Linked DNA regions of Homo sapiens: region 2 is linked to region 1. Evidence: fine-mapped expression QTL. Tissue or cell type: whole blood. Region 1 holds a variant in brackets; the other region holds the start of a gene. All regions are shown on one strand. Distances are between the middles of the regions.

Region 1 (8,111 bases):
CTGGAATTCACCCTTTAATATTAGTCACCAAGTATTACCTTTCTTCTTAACTTTTGTAATTTTCCAATTGGTCTAAATTCTCTATTCCTTTTTCTCTACCTTTTAGATGCATATTTTATGCTTTTGCAGGCAAGTTTATATCATTTACGAGTACTTATTAATATATACTTTTCTTTCGATTTTTGTATTTAATGCTTTGGACCCATCTCCAAATCTTCCATACTGTTTTAAATTTTGGCCAGGAAGCTTCCATGTGTGACAGAATTGACAATGGCTAATTTTTATTGAGCACTTTTTTTGTAAGCACATTTCAGTGCTGTAAGCTCATTGAATGTATTAATCAGTCTTCAGTGCAACTCACTGACATAGATACCATATTTAACTCCCATTTTACGGAGACGAAACAGAGACAAAGAAAAGTTTAAGTAACTTTTACAAGGTCACAGAGATAATATATCCCAAAGCCAAATTCCAATATTCAGTTGCCTGGCTCCAGAGTCAACCCTTTTACCCATTAGACCACAGTGCTTCTCAGAGATTCCTACACTGATTCTAAGCAAGAGACAATTACAGAAATATTTCTTGCTGTGTTAAACTTACATAGCAAGCATCACTTGCTTGTTTTATTTCTGATTACACATGATATACTAGTAAACTCTGAAAGCTGGATCACAGCCTTTTATTTCTTGTAGCCTTTGGAATGTGTGTGTGTGTGTGTGTGTGTGTGTGTGTGTGTGTGTTTTTGAGACGGAGTCTCGCTCTGTCATCCAGGCTGGAGTGCAGTGGCGTGATCTCGGCTCACTGCAAGCTCCGCCTCCCGGGTTCACGCCATTGTCTTGCCTCAGCCTCCCAAGTAGCTGGGATTACAGGTGCCCGCCATCATGCCCAGCTAAATTTTTTTGTATTTTGGGTAGAGACGAGGTTTCACCATGTTAGCCAGGATGGTCTCGATCTCCTGACCTCGTGATCCGCCCACCTCGGCCTCCCAAAGTGCTGGGATTACAGGCATGAGCCACCACGCCCGGCTGGAATGTGGTCTTTTCGGTTGTCTACATGTAGCAGGCAATTTCACAATTATGAGAATTAGCATAATCAAGAACAATGACGTGAGAATTCTTTTTTTTTAAAATTATACGTTAAGTTTTAGGGTACATGTGCACAATGTGCAGGTCTGTTACATATGTATACATGTGCTGTGTTGGTGTACTGCACCCATTAACTCGTCATTTAACATTAGGTATATCTCCTAATGCTATCCCTTCCCCTTCCCCCACCCCACAACAGGCCCCGGTGTGTGATGTTCCCCTTCCTGTGACCATGTGTTCTGATTGTTCAGTTCCCACCTATGAGTGAGAATATGCGGTGTTTGGTTTTTTGTCCTTGTGATAGTTTGCTGAGAATGATGGTTTCCAGCTTCATCCATGTCCCTACAAAGGACATGAACGCATCATTTTTTATGGCTGCATAGTATTCCATGGTGTATATGTGCCACATTTTCTTAATCAAGTCTATCATTGTTGGACATTTGGGTTGGTTCCAAGTCTTTGCTATTGTGAATAGTGCTGCAATAAATATGTGTACATGTGTCTTTATAGCAGCATGATTTATAATCCTTTGGGTATATACCCAGTAATGGGATTGCTGGGTCAAATGATATTTCTAGTTCTAGTTCCCTGAGGAATCGCCACACTGACTTCCACAATGGTTGAACTAGTTTACAGTCCCACCAACAGTGTAAAAGTGTTCCTATTTCTCCACATCTTCTCCAGCACCTGTTGTTTCCTGACTTTTTAATGATTGCCATTCTAACTGGTGTGAGATGGTATCTCATTGTGGTTTTGATTTGCATTTCTCTGATGGCCAGTGATGATGAGCATTTTTTTCATGTGTCTTTTGGCTGCATAAATGTCTTCTTTTGAAAAGTGTCTGTTCATATCCTTTGCCCACTTTTTGATGGGTTTTTTTTTTTTTTTTTCTTGTAAATTTGTTTGAGTTCTTTGTAGATTCTGGATATTAGCCCTTTGTCAGATGAGTAGGTTGCAAAAATTTTCTCCCATTCTATAGGTTGCCTGTTCACTGTGATGGTAGTTTCTTTTGCTGTGCAGAAGCTCTTTAGTTTTAGTAGATCCCATTTGTCAATTTTGGCTTTTGTTGCCATTGCTTTTGGTGTTTTAGACATGAAGTCCTTGCCCGTGCCTGTGTCCTGAATGGTAAAGCCTAGGTTTTCTTCTATGGTTTTTATGGTTTTAGGTCTAACATTTAAGTCTTTAATCCATCCTGAATTAGTTTTTGTATAAGGCGTAAGGAAGGGATCCAGTTTCAGCTTTCTACATATGGCTAGCCAGTTTTCCCAGCACCATTTATTAAATAGGGAATCCTTTCCCCATTGCTTGTTTTTCTCAGGTTTGTCAAAGATCAGATAGTTGTAGGTATGTGGCATTATTTCTGAGGGCTCTGTTCTGTTCCATTGGTCTATATCTCTGTTTGGTACCAGTACCATGCTGTTTTGGTTACTGTAGCCTTGTAGTATAGTTTGAAGTCAGGTAGCGTGATGCCTCCAGCTTTGTTCTTTTGGCTTAGGATTGACTTGGCGATGCGGGCTCTTTTTTGGTTCCATATGAACTTTAAAGTAGTTTTTTCCAATTCTATGAAGAAAGCCATTTGTAGCTTGATGGGGATGCCATTGAATCTATAAATTACCTTGGGCAGTATGGCCATTTTCACGATATTGATTCTTCCTACCCATGAGCATGGAATATTCTTCCATTTCTTTGTATCCTCTTTTATTTCATTGAGCAGTGGTCTGTAGTTCTCCTTGAAGAGGTCCTTCACATCCCTTGTAAGTTGGATTCCTAGGTATTTTATTGTCTTTGAAGCAATTGTGAATGGGAGTTCACTCATGATTTGGCTCTCTGTTTGTCTGTTATTGGTGTATAAGAATGCTTGTGATTTTTGCACGTTGATTTTGTATCCTGAGACTTTGCTGAAGTTGCTTATCAGCTTAAGGAGATTTTGGGCTGAGACAATGGGGTTTTCTAGATATACAATCATGTCATCTGCAAACAGGGACAACTTGACTTCCTCTTTTCCTAATTGAATACCCTTTATTTCTTTCTCCTGCCTAATTGCCCTGGCCAGAACTTCCAACACTATGTTGAATAGGAGTGGTGAGAGCGGGCATCCCTGTCTTGTGCCAGTTTTCAAAGGGAATGCTTCCAGTTTTTGCCCATTCAGTATGATATTGGCTGTGTGTTTGTCATAAATAGCTCTTATTATTTTGAGATATGTCCCATCAATACCTAATTTATTGAGAGTTTTTAGCATGAAGGGCTGTTGAATTTTGTCAAAGGCCTTTTCTGCATCTATTGAGATAATCATGTGGTTTTTGTCTTTGGTTCTGTTTATATGCTGGATTACATTTATTGATTTGCATATGTTCAACCAGCCTTGCATCCCAGGGATGAAGCCCACTTGATCATGGTGGATAAGCTTTTTGATGTGCTGCTGGATTCGGTTTGCCAGTATTTTATTGAGGATTTTTGCATCGATGTTCATCAGGGATATTGATCTAAAATTCTCTTTTTTGGTTGTGTCTCTGTGAGGCTTTGGTATCAGGATGATGCTGGCCTCATAAAATGAGTTAGGGAGGATTCACTCTTTTTCTATTGATTGGAATAGTTTCAGAAGGAATGGTATTAGCTCCTCCTTGTACCTCTGGTAGAATTCAGCTGTGAATCCCTCTGGTCCTGGACTTTTTTTGGTTGATAAGCTATTAATTATTGCCTCAATTTCAGAGCCTGTTATTGGTCTATTCAGGGATTCAACTTCTTCCTGGTTTAGTCTTGGGAGGGTGTATGTGTCAAGGAATTTATCCATTTCTTTTAGATTTTCTGGTTTATTTGCATAGAGGTGTTTATAGTATTCTCTGACGGTAGTTTGTATTTCTGTGGGATTGGTGGTGATATCCCCTTTATCATTTTTTATTGCGTCTATTTGATTCTTATCTCTTTTCTTCTTTATTAGTCTTGCTAGCCGTCTATCAATTTTGTTGATCTTTTCAAAAAACCAGCTCCTGAATTCATTGATTTTTTGAAGGGTTTTTTGTGTCTCTATCTCCTTCAGTTCTACTCTGATCCTAGTTATTTCTTGTCTTCTGCTAGCTTTTGAATGTGTTTGCTTTTGCTTCTCTAGTTCTTTTAATTGTGATGTTAGGGTGTTAATTTTCTATCTTTCTTGCTTTCTCTT[G/C]TGGGCATTTAGTGCTATAAATTTCCCTCTACACAGTGCTTTGAATGTGTCCCAGAGATTCTGGTATGTTGTGTCTTTGTTCTCATTGGTTTCAAAGCACATCTTTATTTCTGCCTTCATTTGGTTATTTACCCAGTAGTCATTCAGGAGCAGGTTGTTCAGTTTCCATGTAGTTGAGCGGTTTTGAGTGAGTTTCTTAATCCTGAGTTCCAGGTTGATTGCACTGTGGTCTGAGAGACCGTTTGTTATAATTTCTGTTCTTTTACATTTGCTGAGGAGTGCTTTACTTCCAATTATGTGGTCAATTTTGGAATAGGTGTGATGTGGTGCTGAAAAGAACGTATATTCTGTTGATTTGGGGTGGAGAGTTCTGTAGATGTCTATTAGGTCCGCTTGGTGCAGAGCTGAGTTCAATTCCTGGATATCCTTGTTAACTTTCTGTCTCGTTGATCTGTCTAATGTTGACAGTGGGGTGTTAAAGTCTCCCATTATTATTGTGTGGGAATCTAAGTCTCTTTGTAGGTCTCTAAGGACTTGCTTTATGAATCTGGGTGCTCCTGTATTGGGTGCATATATATTTAGAATAGTTAGCTCTTCTTGTTGAATTGATCCCTTTACCATTATGTAATGGCCTTCTTTGTGTCTTTTGATCTTTGTTGGTTTAAAGTCTGTTTTATCAGAGACTAGGATTGCAACCCCTGCCTTTTTTTGTTTTCCATTTGCTTGCTAGATCTTCCTCCATCCCTTTATTTTGAGCCTATGTGTGTCTCTGCACCTGAGATGGGTTTCCTGAATACAGCACACTGATGGGTCTTGACTCTTTATCCATTTTGCCAGTCTGTCTTCTTACTATCACATTTGCTTCTACCAGCCACACACCTGGAATCCTCTAGCCTTTGTTTTTACTCTGCAAATCAATATGCATTTCAGGATCTTTAATTGTCCTAATATGTGCTTTTTCTACCTTTTTCATCCCAACTCATGTTTTGCTAGTTCTGCCTACTTACAACTTTAGCCCCATGTCATTAAAAACTCAGCCATCCTGTAGTTGTTTCATATTTATTCTGTTAGGTGCCCAAGAAAAGTATTGACTTACTTATATAAAGGATACTTTATATAGTATGTGTGTAACTTTGTTAGACTATCTCTGTCATAGCTAGAGTTCCCTGGGCGTTGGTGGTAAATGAAAATGTTTCTTGCTGATCATATCCTTGCCCCAAACCACGCATTTTCTCTGGCCTTTCTGTATCCAAAGAGCTTGAAGACATGGATGAGGGGCTTATTTCTTGTCTGAAAATAGACAGCAGCGTTCCTATCTTCCTATAAGGGAAAATACAGGAAAATTATTTCCTTTTCATTCCTTTTCCATATCATTTCTCTTCCTCTTAGAGAATATCATCTGAACAATGATTTTAGTAAAGTTGAAAAAAGATGTTGGTACCACTATCTTAGTATATTAGAAAATAGAGTGAAAAAAGATGTTGGTACCACTATCTTAGTATATTAGAAAATATTTCCTTCTTCCACACATCCTTTCCTGTTTCTAGTCACATTGGCACATGGACTTATTTCCACAAAGAAATCAGTTAAGGCAGAAGTTTCAATTTGTTGGAAGATAGTTGTTATGAAGGGAGAGAAGGAGAAAAGAAGAAGGAGAAGGAAAAGGGGTCATTTTTACTGTTAAAGAAAGTGTGCTAAACTTAATACTTCTATCCTAGAGTGAGATTGTTGAGGAGAAAGGGGTGAAGAAGAAATGACTGTCATTTTCTCTGTTCAAAAAGGGTCCCAGGTAAGGGAGCATATTTTTCCAGAATTAAGGGTGAATAAGAGAAGACAAAGAATAACTTCACAAAAAAACCATTAACCTATCACAAAAACCTGTCTCAACTCCCTCAGTTCCCTTTTTTTTTCCCCACTTCAGCCATTTCTTCTCCCATGATAATGTCAAGGAAGGCGTTATTGAGTGGGTTTGCTTCTCAATAATATTCACCAGCTTCCCCACAAAAGACACATAAGCAGAGAAATACAGTCTTAGGAAAAACAGTATGTCTGCTATGCAACACAACTTCAAGAAAAGCCCTCTAGCCCATCATCCGACCACACTGTCATCCCTAGGCCCCTCTAATGTAGAAATTCCAAAGTTCCTACTGACACCCCCGATGCTCTGCAATGAGCATGCTGAGTTTCTTTTTCCCTCCCCCAAATAGTGCCTTTTTTCTCCATTCATTTGTACATGCTGTTTTCTTAAGCTGGAAGGACTTCTCTCAATTTAGATATTTTCTAGGAAAACTTTTTCACCTCTTTGAGTAGGATGCCCCTACGATGTGCTTTTAGCCCCCACAGCAACCTCCACTTACTCGTTTATTGAACACATACTATGCCATATATACTGTGTGATACCTGATAGGGATCCCACTGTGAGTACTACACTCCCAAAATGGACACTGGGTAAAGAATGGTTTTGATAATTATTTTATACTTATAAGAAACAAATAATTTATGTGCTATGTAACTTATTCTCATGTAAAAAAAGTTAATAGTACAGTTTGCAAATTATTTTATCAACCTAAGATAGCCTTTTACTGAAAACTCTCAATAAAACTACGATCAATCCAACTTATGAAATACATGTACAGAAATACAGAGTACATCCAAACTGTATAGTAAAATAATGTCATTTGTTTTTATTAATACAAGGAATTCCAAGTTAGAAATCTATCAATATATGAAGCAAATAGGTAACAAAAGTAAAATGCATTGTTACCTAACTAGATGCCAAAAAGCATTTGATAGAATACAACATTCACTCTTAGTAAAATGTCTCAGTAATCTAAGCTTAGGAGGATAATTCATTAAGATAATGAAGATTATTTCTCTTTAACAGTTGGTCAGTATAATTACAAATGGTGAGAAACTGGAGGCATTTTCCTAAAAGTCATTCAAAAATGCATTATTATATAACATCTTCCCCTGAATGATCCAACAATAGAAAAAATATCATTGCATGTACTATCATATTTCACGTTCAATCATGCTTTAACAGCTATAAGTTTTTCTTCTAGAATGCTGACTTTCTGGCGTGTGATGGGCATGGTATACATGTGAGACTATTTAATCTGTCAGAGACTACCACCATTGCAAATTGTAGCCTTGGAGAAGAATAAGGAAAAGGGACAATGCACATATATAATATTACAAAAAAGAAGTTTCTAATAATATAAATGATTGCAATTTTGTACTTATGTGTCTGAAGAAATGACACCAAAATGTTAACTGTGGTTTTCTCTGGAATGTGAGACTTAGGGCACTAATAATTTATCTTCTCCATATTTTCCGAACAATTTTAAATTAACCTATATTTTATTACTATATGTATCAGAAATAGTATTTTCACATTTTTCTTGGAAGATAATTGTGGCAAGAATGTGTAGAATGGACAGTTTTCTCTAAAAACCAAGTAGGGAATAAAACAGACAATGGACAGGAAATTGGAGTGGGGCTTTATGTTCTATCATATTACATAGATTAATTCAATGCCATTTAGTGTTCTTATGTCCACCAATCGATCTAACACTTATATCCACCATCATCAGACATACTGATACAGCCTCAGTTATTGCAAAAAGATTCTAGAACCCACCATTTAGAATGTGATCAAGCTTAGCAGTGCTGATAGGAAGCACTGTAGAGCATCCGGCAGTATCACACAAGAAAAAAAAAAGATAGAGGCGATGCCTGGTGGGTGGGAGGGAGCCTAGGGAAACATCAGGGGCTTCTGTTACCTCTGCTTTTTTCTTTGTTATAAAAATGTAGAATTTCAGTTTGTTGATTCTCCAGGTTTTATTCTTCTCTCCCCAAAGGCTCCA
Region 2 (8,111 bases), 31 kb before region 1:
ATTACCATTAGGACCTCATAAGACTAATGGCAAGAGAGGTTCATATGGTTTACATTGGGATAAGGAAGAATACCTATCTTACAACTTAAGTGAGGTATATCAGAACTTAGTTTTTTTAATGGGCTGTGATACAACTTGTACCACATCTAAAGCATAAAATGTATTTTAATGGGGCTTTTTCTATTAACAGGGAAAAACCCTAAACCAAACACTAAATGAAATTATTAAAAATTCTTTAGGTATCATCAAGTCCTGATGTAGACACTGGAGTAACAAGCATTCTGGGCATTCTTGTAACTTATTCTCCTTCCTCTACTAAACCAGGCGTAGGTTAGTTTCAACACGGGAAGAACTCTCTTTCATTCCTTTTCTTTTACCTCCCTAGAGTAGTATGACAGTGAATTCCTCAAAACTCTGGGGGTACAGATATGAAACAAATGTGGTCTCTAAACATAACAGAATTATTAAATCTCAGAGTTCAGTGAGGATTGAAAGTTAACCATCATCCCCTATAAACCTCCATATTGTGAAGTCCCTTAAATGGTTGAATTATTTCTGCTAAAATACTGATATCCAGCCCCCTAGCTTCAAAAAGAGAAAAGATACTTCTCCTTTCCTTTTGTGATCTTAATCCACTTGGACTTTTACAATTGCTGCTTTAAATTTTTCATGAACTATCTTTACAGCAAACCATTTTAATATTTTTCTGAGGTTTAAAGTCTAGTTCACAATTTTATCGCTTGATATATGAGATGCCATGTCTTCCAATTTATAATGTAATATAATGTAATGTTTAAGCAAGGGGTTAGAGGTGTACCACTGGGAAGAATAAGAACTGAATTTATTTTTTTGGTATTGCTTTTCAAAAGTCTTAGTTAACCTGTATGTATCTAAAATAATATACATCCAAGAACTAAGTTTTATGTTACATTTAACAGAATGAAAATCTATACTGAAAAATGAAAATCTATACTGAAAGCCAAAATTGGATGACTCTTTACCATACTTCCAAATATGAAACACTGTATTCATTCTGCCTCCAAATTCTACACTCCAGTATCCAACCAATTCAGAGTGAGCTGTCCGAAGATGAGCGTTTTTCTCAAAATTTTCCAGGAACTCATTCATCTTTGAGGGCTTAAGGTAATAAGAACGAAATTCATAGAATATTCCATCGTATTGTCTGGGTCCCGTAGCAAAAGATGAGCACATCTGAAGAAGATAAGACAAATGTAAATATCTTGAGAAGACAGGATTCATTATATTGTGTTAAAACCTAATCTGAATCTGGTACAAGGGACACTCATAGACTCATTACTCATGTTTGTACTTCTGTTGTCAATTCTCAATATGTTACTGATGGAGGGTGTCCAGGTTCTTGGTGTTTGAACAAAGAACTGGACAAAATGCACAAAGCAAGGAAAGAATGAAGTAACAAAAGCAGAGATCTATTGAAAATGAAAGCACACTCCACAGGGTAGGAGTGGGCCTGAGCAAGTGGCTCAAGGGCCCTGGTTACAGAATTTTCTAGGGTTTCAGTACCCTCTAGAGGTGTCCCATTGGCTATGTGGTGTAAGCCGTATATAAATGAAGAGGATGAAGTAAAGTTGCAAAGTCATTTACTCTGTGTACACCCTATGTAAATGAAGAGGGTATTTCTTGTCATAGCTGAAGGGTTTGATTTAGTTCTAGGAAGTCCTTAGGTTCCCTGCCTCAAGACCCTATTCTCCTGCTTCACATATACATTTGTTTACATAGAGGTGTCAATAAAGACAACTACTCTTAAATATGCTGAGTGTGTAGTTACTGTTTCCTAGTGGGGGTTCACTGTCACCTTTAGCCACTTTTTCAGAAATTGCTCATAAGAAGGCGCTGAGATCTTAATGATACTTCTTTATCCAAGAACTACAATTAGGATTCTAACAAATTTACAAAAGTTTTCCTATTAGCCAATATTGCATCTTTAGTCAAGAGCATACGTGTTACAGTTATGCACATCAAAGAACTTTATTAACTACGCACGTAACTTTTGGCAGGCATAATGAAAAAAATGTTTACTAGAAGAAAACTCTTTTAGGTTCTTGAAAAAAATGGAAATTACAGTTCAGGTCAAAGTATTTCCTAATTCAATGAAGTAAACCACTGACCAAAATTAGGACTGGAATGTAACTAATGCAATAAAAAGCTCTGACCTATCCAATTGCATTGTAATATAATGGTAGAACATGAATGCTGAGAAAAGAAAATTCAGAGTCAAAATTTTCTTATTAGTTTCTAATTACAGATGCAATGTGAACAACATTTAATGAATCCACTTATACCACATTGATGAAAATATCACTTAAGAACCATTAATTCCTTTTGTAATAGTCATACACGCACTGTAAATTTCTAATTTGTGTTCTGGTTGAACTTTCTGTAAGAAATACCTCGCCTAAGATTATCCTCTATGTAGGTATCTATGTGTATATATGTATACACATACACACACACATACGCACACACACATATATATATGCACTCATGGTATACACACAGGCATTCGTGATATTCTTATAAATCCATCTTACTTAAGTTTGAATAGCATGTGCCATTTCCTTAAGTTGATTACACCAGAATAATCTGTGAAGACAGTTTTGATACCTACAAAGCTATGGACAAATTAGGGCTTATACTGACTAGCCAGTATGTCTGTCTGAAAGCAGTAGGCTTTTGCTCCGACATATTTTTGTTTACAAAATACAAAATTATGTAACTGTGTATGATAAGGCTTAATGATAATTATCTAGAGTTAATTCTATTCGTGTGTGACTTATATTCTTATTGCTCAAATGACTAAGCCTACCAACAAAAACAGCTGCAGCTGCCCCTGCCTTTTGTGGACACTCTTTTTGTGCTTTTAAACCAAACTCTAGTAACAATGTTGGTCAAGAAGCAAGTGCCTAGTATCCATAATTTCAAAATTATTATAATAAAATATATCAGGAGATAGGCCAATGGGGCATTTGTGACAAATGGATTTCAGGTTGATTCGAGGAATTTGTATTTGGAGGATAAAATAGTTGATCAAAGGTACACATTTTTACAATTTTGGGCAGTATTAATATACAGTAGGGAACCTACAGTGAGAGAGGGAGAGAGATGTGGACAGGTGGTGCCAGAGAAGGAAGACTGCAGGGGAGCCGGGTATGGTGGGGGAGCCGGATGGGAGTTAAGAATTTTGTTGCAGGGATGACTTTTAGCTGCTAGGGCAGAAATCATGAGTCGTCCATCCTCCCTTATCTCCAAGTTAGGGATCATTCCCACCAGCAACGACCTCCACTTCACTTAAAAGAGAACAACTGATGGACATTTCTAAAAACTTAAAGTTTGGAATCATGCCATAAGGACGTCATTCCTGGCCCTGCCCCACTGGAGAATCATTAGGGTAAAAACTGCATTGTTAACCCGGGGTGAATGGACATGAGCTGCTCTTCTTTAGTGCTCCTCAGTCTGTCTCTAGGACAGGTTAATCCCCTTCCCATCCTGCCCCTTCAGAAAGGAGTAAAGTCCTAAACATCAAAAGGAAAAGAAATTTCTAGGTTGAAGCCACAGAATAGGCCACTCCCGAAAGTTAGGGCAGAATCACAAGCTCCATTTTGTCCATTTCTCATCTAAGGTTAAAAGAGTCTGTCTGTCATCGTCCGGTTTGATAGGAGGCTCCGGTCCCGCCTGGTTGGGGGAGCGACCACACGAAGCGCGGGTGGCGGGCAGGGTCCAGCCCCACCGGGACCCTGGGCCTCCTCTTCAAGGGTCTCCGCGAAATGCTCGGAAGTTGTGTGCTTCATTTAAAAGGGGGAGGCCGGTTCCGTGGCAAGCGGCTGGTTGACAATTCCCTCCTTCAACCTGATGTCTAGAGAGGGCGGTGGCTTGGAAAGCTACGACTCCACCCGCGGCTCCACAGCGCCAGGTGACAACATGGGAGCGCTCGCTGGGCCGCAGCCGCGACATAGCTGGGCAGCAAAAACGAAACAGCCGGCGCCATGGGAGTGTCCCGGTGGGTGTGGCATCCAGGCTAGAAAAGCCTTCTGACCACCACTGCCCGCGAGACGACCCCGGCTGGGGGTATTCCCCTAGCAGCGGCCTCCTCCTCACGCGCGTTCCGGGTACCCCTGTCTTGGGGTTCCGGGGCTCACGCTAGAACCTCACCGGGGCCCCAGGTCTGGGCGCGCGTGGCGGAGAGCGCATGCGCATTGCTCGCACGTACCCGGAACACTCCCCGCCCCGCCCCTCCCCTCCCGTCGGGTGAAGGCTTGGGTACCCCCGTGGCCGGTACCTGAGGCGCCAGCGTCCGTGAGGCCAGCGCCCGAGTCAGGGCGCTTCTGAGGACGAGCATGGCGCGGCTTCGGCGCTGAGAAAAGCAGCCAGCCGTGTCCTTTCTGAGACTCCTCTGAAGGTTTCCCGAGTGGAAAGGAGCGGCTCCTGGATCATTGGCAGACGCAGGCTGGGGCGGGGCTCGGCGGGGTCAGCTCCACCCCGGCGCGGGAGGCGCGGCGGGTCCCGTAGCTTGGTGTCTTTCTCTGCTGTGCTGAGCGTTGGTTCCCCCTTGGTTTCCTGAAACGTTCTTACCCCAAACGTTAGAGGTGACGTTAGGATTAACTGAAGGCTCGGATCGTTCCTGCTTCAACTTTCTGGGCCCTCACTCACCTCATTCGCTCCAGTGCTCAGTTGTGTAGATTGGTAAATGTGCAGGGGTTGTGGGTGTGTTGACCATGGGGAAAGAAGGAGAGGTGTTGAGTGCGTGCATGTGCAGTGCTTTGTATTTAAAATCGTGGAGGTTTTTTCCGAGTTAAGTTTTAGATGTTGTGATAGACGTGTATTTGAGCCTGACCTCTCTGCAATGAATGTGTTCTCCATCTTAGAAGGCTCCTAATTAAGATTTAGATTAAATTTTCCACGAGCTCAGAGAAATGGCAGCATCGAGCCTGAAATGAAAAAGTCAAAGTTAAACATACCCTGGTCTAGTCCTCCCAGTCCGGGAGTGTTGGTTCCCAGAGTAACCACCTTCAACATTTCAAGCTGTTTCATTTAATGCTTGTTTCTGTATTTTTAAGTAAGTAGTGTTTTCTGCTGTTTATTGCATTTTCAGTTATGGATAGTATGTGTTGACTTCCTTCTGTGGCAGATGAGGATTTATGTCTCATAGATGCCACTGCCCCCAAATTCACTTGTCTTCCTGCATCTAATAATGCTTATGTTAATTTACAGTAATTAATTACACTATTAATTTACAGTAATCTATATTAATGTTTACATTATTCTTGCTAATAATTACATTATTGTAAACATTAATGTAATATTGCTTACATCATGAGGACTAGGGAGGGATTGCAGGGCCATGACCTGGGTTGTATTGGTTGTGCCTTGTGGAAGAGCTTTGGAATTGTCTGTTCAAAGGAAGGGAGACTTTTTAAAATTAGTTATTTCGGAAGGGTTGCCTCAGTTTTTCTAGAAGAGAGACATCTATTTGTAACCATGCAAGACTAAAAAAATCATTTGTATCAGGACTGGATCTATATGAGTAAATTATTTTCTTAGACCTTTTTTTTTAAACCCTGTAATTGCCAATCCATTTACTTATTCAACAGATATTTACTAAATTCCTTCCATGTTCCAGGCACTTTTCCAGAAACTGGGGTACAGAATTGAGCAAAATTCAAAGTCCCGTCCTCTTGGAACATCCAGGATGGAGGAAACAGATAAAAAAAGGAAGAGTAAATATATCAGGGATTGTCAAATAATATAAAGAAAAATAAAGTAAGATACGAATAAAGGTGCTAGTGGAATTCTAAAAGTGGTCAGGATTCTAGCTATTGACTTGGATATTTAGGATTTAGGTTTCTTCATACCACTCCCTCAAAATACACTTTCCTTCCTGCGTTTATTGATGTTTACATTAAAAATATATTTTGGAGTGAGAAAAACATGTTAAAAGCACTGTAAGCACAGGTGAATCTCTTCAAATAGTGGGCTTCACTGTGAGGTGATCTGACCTGGGTATTTCACTGAAGGCTGTATCCCCTCCCCCCAAACTGTTATCTGCAAGTTATTTATCTGTGTAGTCAGTGTTAGGGAAGGGAAACTTCCAGTATCTTATCTGTGTGAGAAAAGCCTTGCTGCCAGTTTCCTGAGGCTGAGGAGGGAAGAAGGCCAGAACACTCAGCATTTGGTAGTATCTTTCAATAATATATTAATTAGGGTAGATTAAATAGCTCTTGTAAATCAACACTCAAAAAAGTGTATTATTACTCAAACACTATAGGAGTTTATTTTTTATAAGAATACAAAGTGGGTTTTTCTAGTTGGCAGGTAGCTCTTCTATACTTAGTGAATTAGGGAGCCAGGCTTCTACCCGGTGGCTTTGCCATTCCCTAGTCTCATCATTAACTGCATCCATCCAGCAGAAAGATACAGGGAACTTCCAAGAGGAATTTCCAAGAGGAAAATACAGATAGGGGCAAAATTCATGGCTACAATTGAGAGATGGCTAAACATTGTTAAGTGCTTCTAAGTAGCTAAAATATTCTCCTATTCTCTTTCTCACAGGTTTTAAATATCCTCAAATACTGTGAGTTAAGCTTTATCTCCGTTTTTTAAGTGAGAAAGGTGAAGTCTGAAAAGAGAATTTTCTCAGTTTCATTGCTACGAAGTGGCACAGACTTTGAAGCCCAATTGTAAAACCAGTTCAGTTTACCATTTATTTTTAAAAGATATGTGATTATTAAGGTAATTTTAGATTTGCAGTGGAAAGTAGCTTTTAGACAGAATTTAAAATGTAATATTGTTCTGTGGCTATTTTAAAAAGCATATCCCTAAACTGCCTGGAAAATGTATAGGATAAATATTTTGAAAATTATTGTTGCATATCCTGAAATTCTGACAAATAGTCCAAAGGATAGACAGTTCAAAGCTAGAAAAATCCTATCAAAAAACTAGATTATTAAAATAGGCTCGTATGATATAGAGTAACTGGGTAGTTATTTTGGATTGGATAGACAGAGATGACCTATCTAAGAAGGTAATATCAAACATTTATTATAGGTATGAAAGTGTATATGAGATATCTGTACACTTTAAAGAAGAATAATAAAGTGAATGTCTGTGCTCTTGCCACAAGGCTTAAGCAAAAGGGTATTGCCAGCAACTCAGAAGCTCAATACATGTTCATTCCTGGTCACATTCTTCTTACAACCCTCTCCTCCAATTCCCTCAAGTAACCATGATCCCAAATTTTGTGTTATTACATTGATTTTTCTGAAATAATTCAACTACATTTGTATATAACTCTAAAGAGTATATTGCTTTGGTTTGCCTGTTTTAGATTGTTTATTAACTAATTTTATTATTTTGTTACATAACTGTTAGCTATAACTTTAGGCTTTTGCAAATCAACCACATTAATGCAGTTGTAATAATTAATTCACATCCCTTTAGTATGCTATTCTATTACATGAAAATACCTTGTTTTTTTGTCCATCTGACTATTATAAACAAAGCTGTTTGAATTTATTTGTAGATGTCTCCTGGTTCCGCCAGAAGAATTTCTCTAGGGCAGGTATTACTAACCTTTTTTTGTGTCTTAAAATCCTTTCAAAATCTTGTGAGCCTGTGGATCCCAAATGTTTTTAAATGTATAACAAATACATAGGGTTGCAAAGAAAACAAATACAGTGAAAAAAGTGAACTAGAATAATCAAAATACAAAATCAAATATGAAAAAAATGAACTAGAATAATGAAATATAAAAAACTTTTTAAAAAGAAATAGAGATGCTTCTTTATTAGGGCACTAAAAAACAATATCTAATAGTGGGTGTAAAAGATGTAATTTTGAAGTAGTGATAAGTGTGGAAGAAATTTTTATGTATTTACAACAACTATAAATGGAATTTGACATTGTCTATAATATTTATTGGTTACAAAGTCACAGGTCCTGCTAATATTGTGGTTTGTTGCCTACCTTCATAAAGGAAATGGTTAATTTTAGTTAGAAGTTGTTGCCAATAAAGATGGAATTGTTATTCATCCAACTTATCAGACCCTCTGAATTCTATCTATAGATTCACTCAGGAT

What was found. PIP is the estimated chance that this variant, and not a neighbour inherited with it, causes the effect.
Region 2: it holds the start of NIPSNAP3A, and the variant in region 1 is fine-mapped to the expression of NIPSNAP3A in whole blood (INTERVAL, PIP 0.91).

The regions. Positions count from the first base shown.
Region 1 is chr9:104,713,064-104,721,174 of GRCh38, reverse strand. The region is part of intron 1 of LOC107987105 (a long non-coding RNA gene); the gene reads left to right. Among named protein-coding and RNA genes, the nearest start is that of OR13D1, 23 kb to the right of the region's middle. The variant G/C (reference allele first, on the strand shown) is at 4,246.
Region 2 is chr9:104,744,057-104,752,167 of GRCh38, reverse strand. It overlaps NIPSNAP3A (nipsnap homolog 3A), which reads right to left and starts at 4,485. Exons shown (of 6, transcript NM_015469.3): 1 at 4,316-4,485; 2 at 1,002-1,212. The coding sequence starts at 4,375. It overlaps LOC107987105 (a long non-coding RNA gene), which reads left to right and starts at 4,529. Exons shown (of 5, transcript XR_007061705.1): 1 at 4,529-4,719. RefSeq lists an enhancer at 3,922-4,081 and a silencer at 4,502-4,591.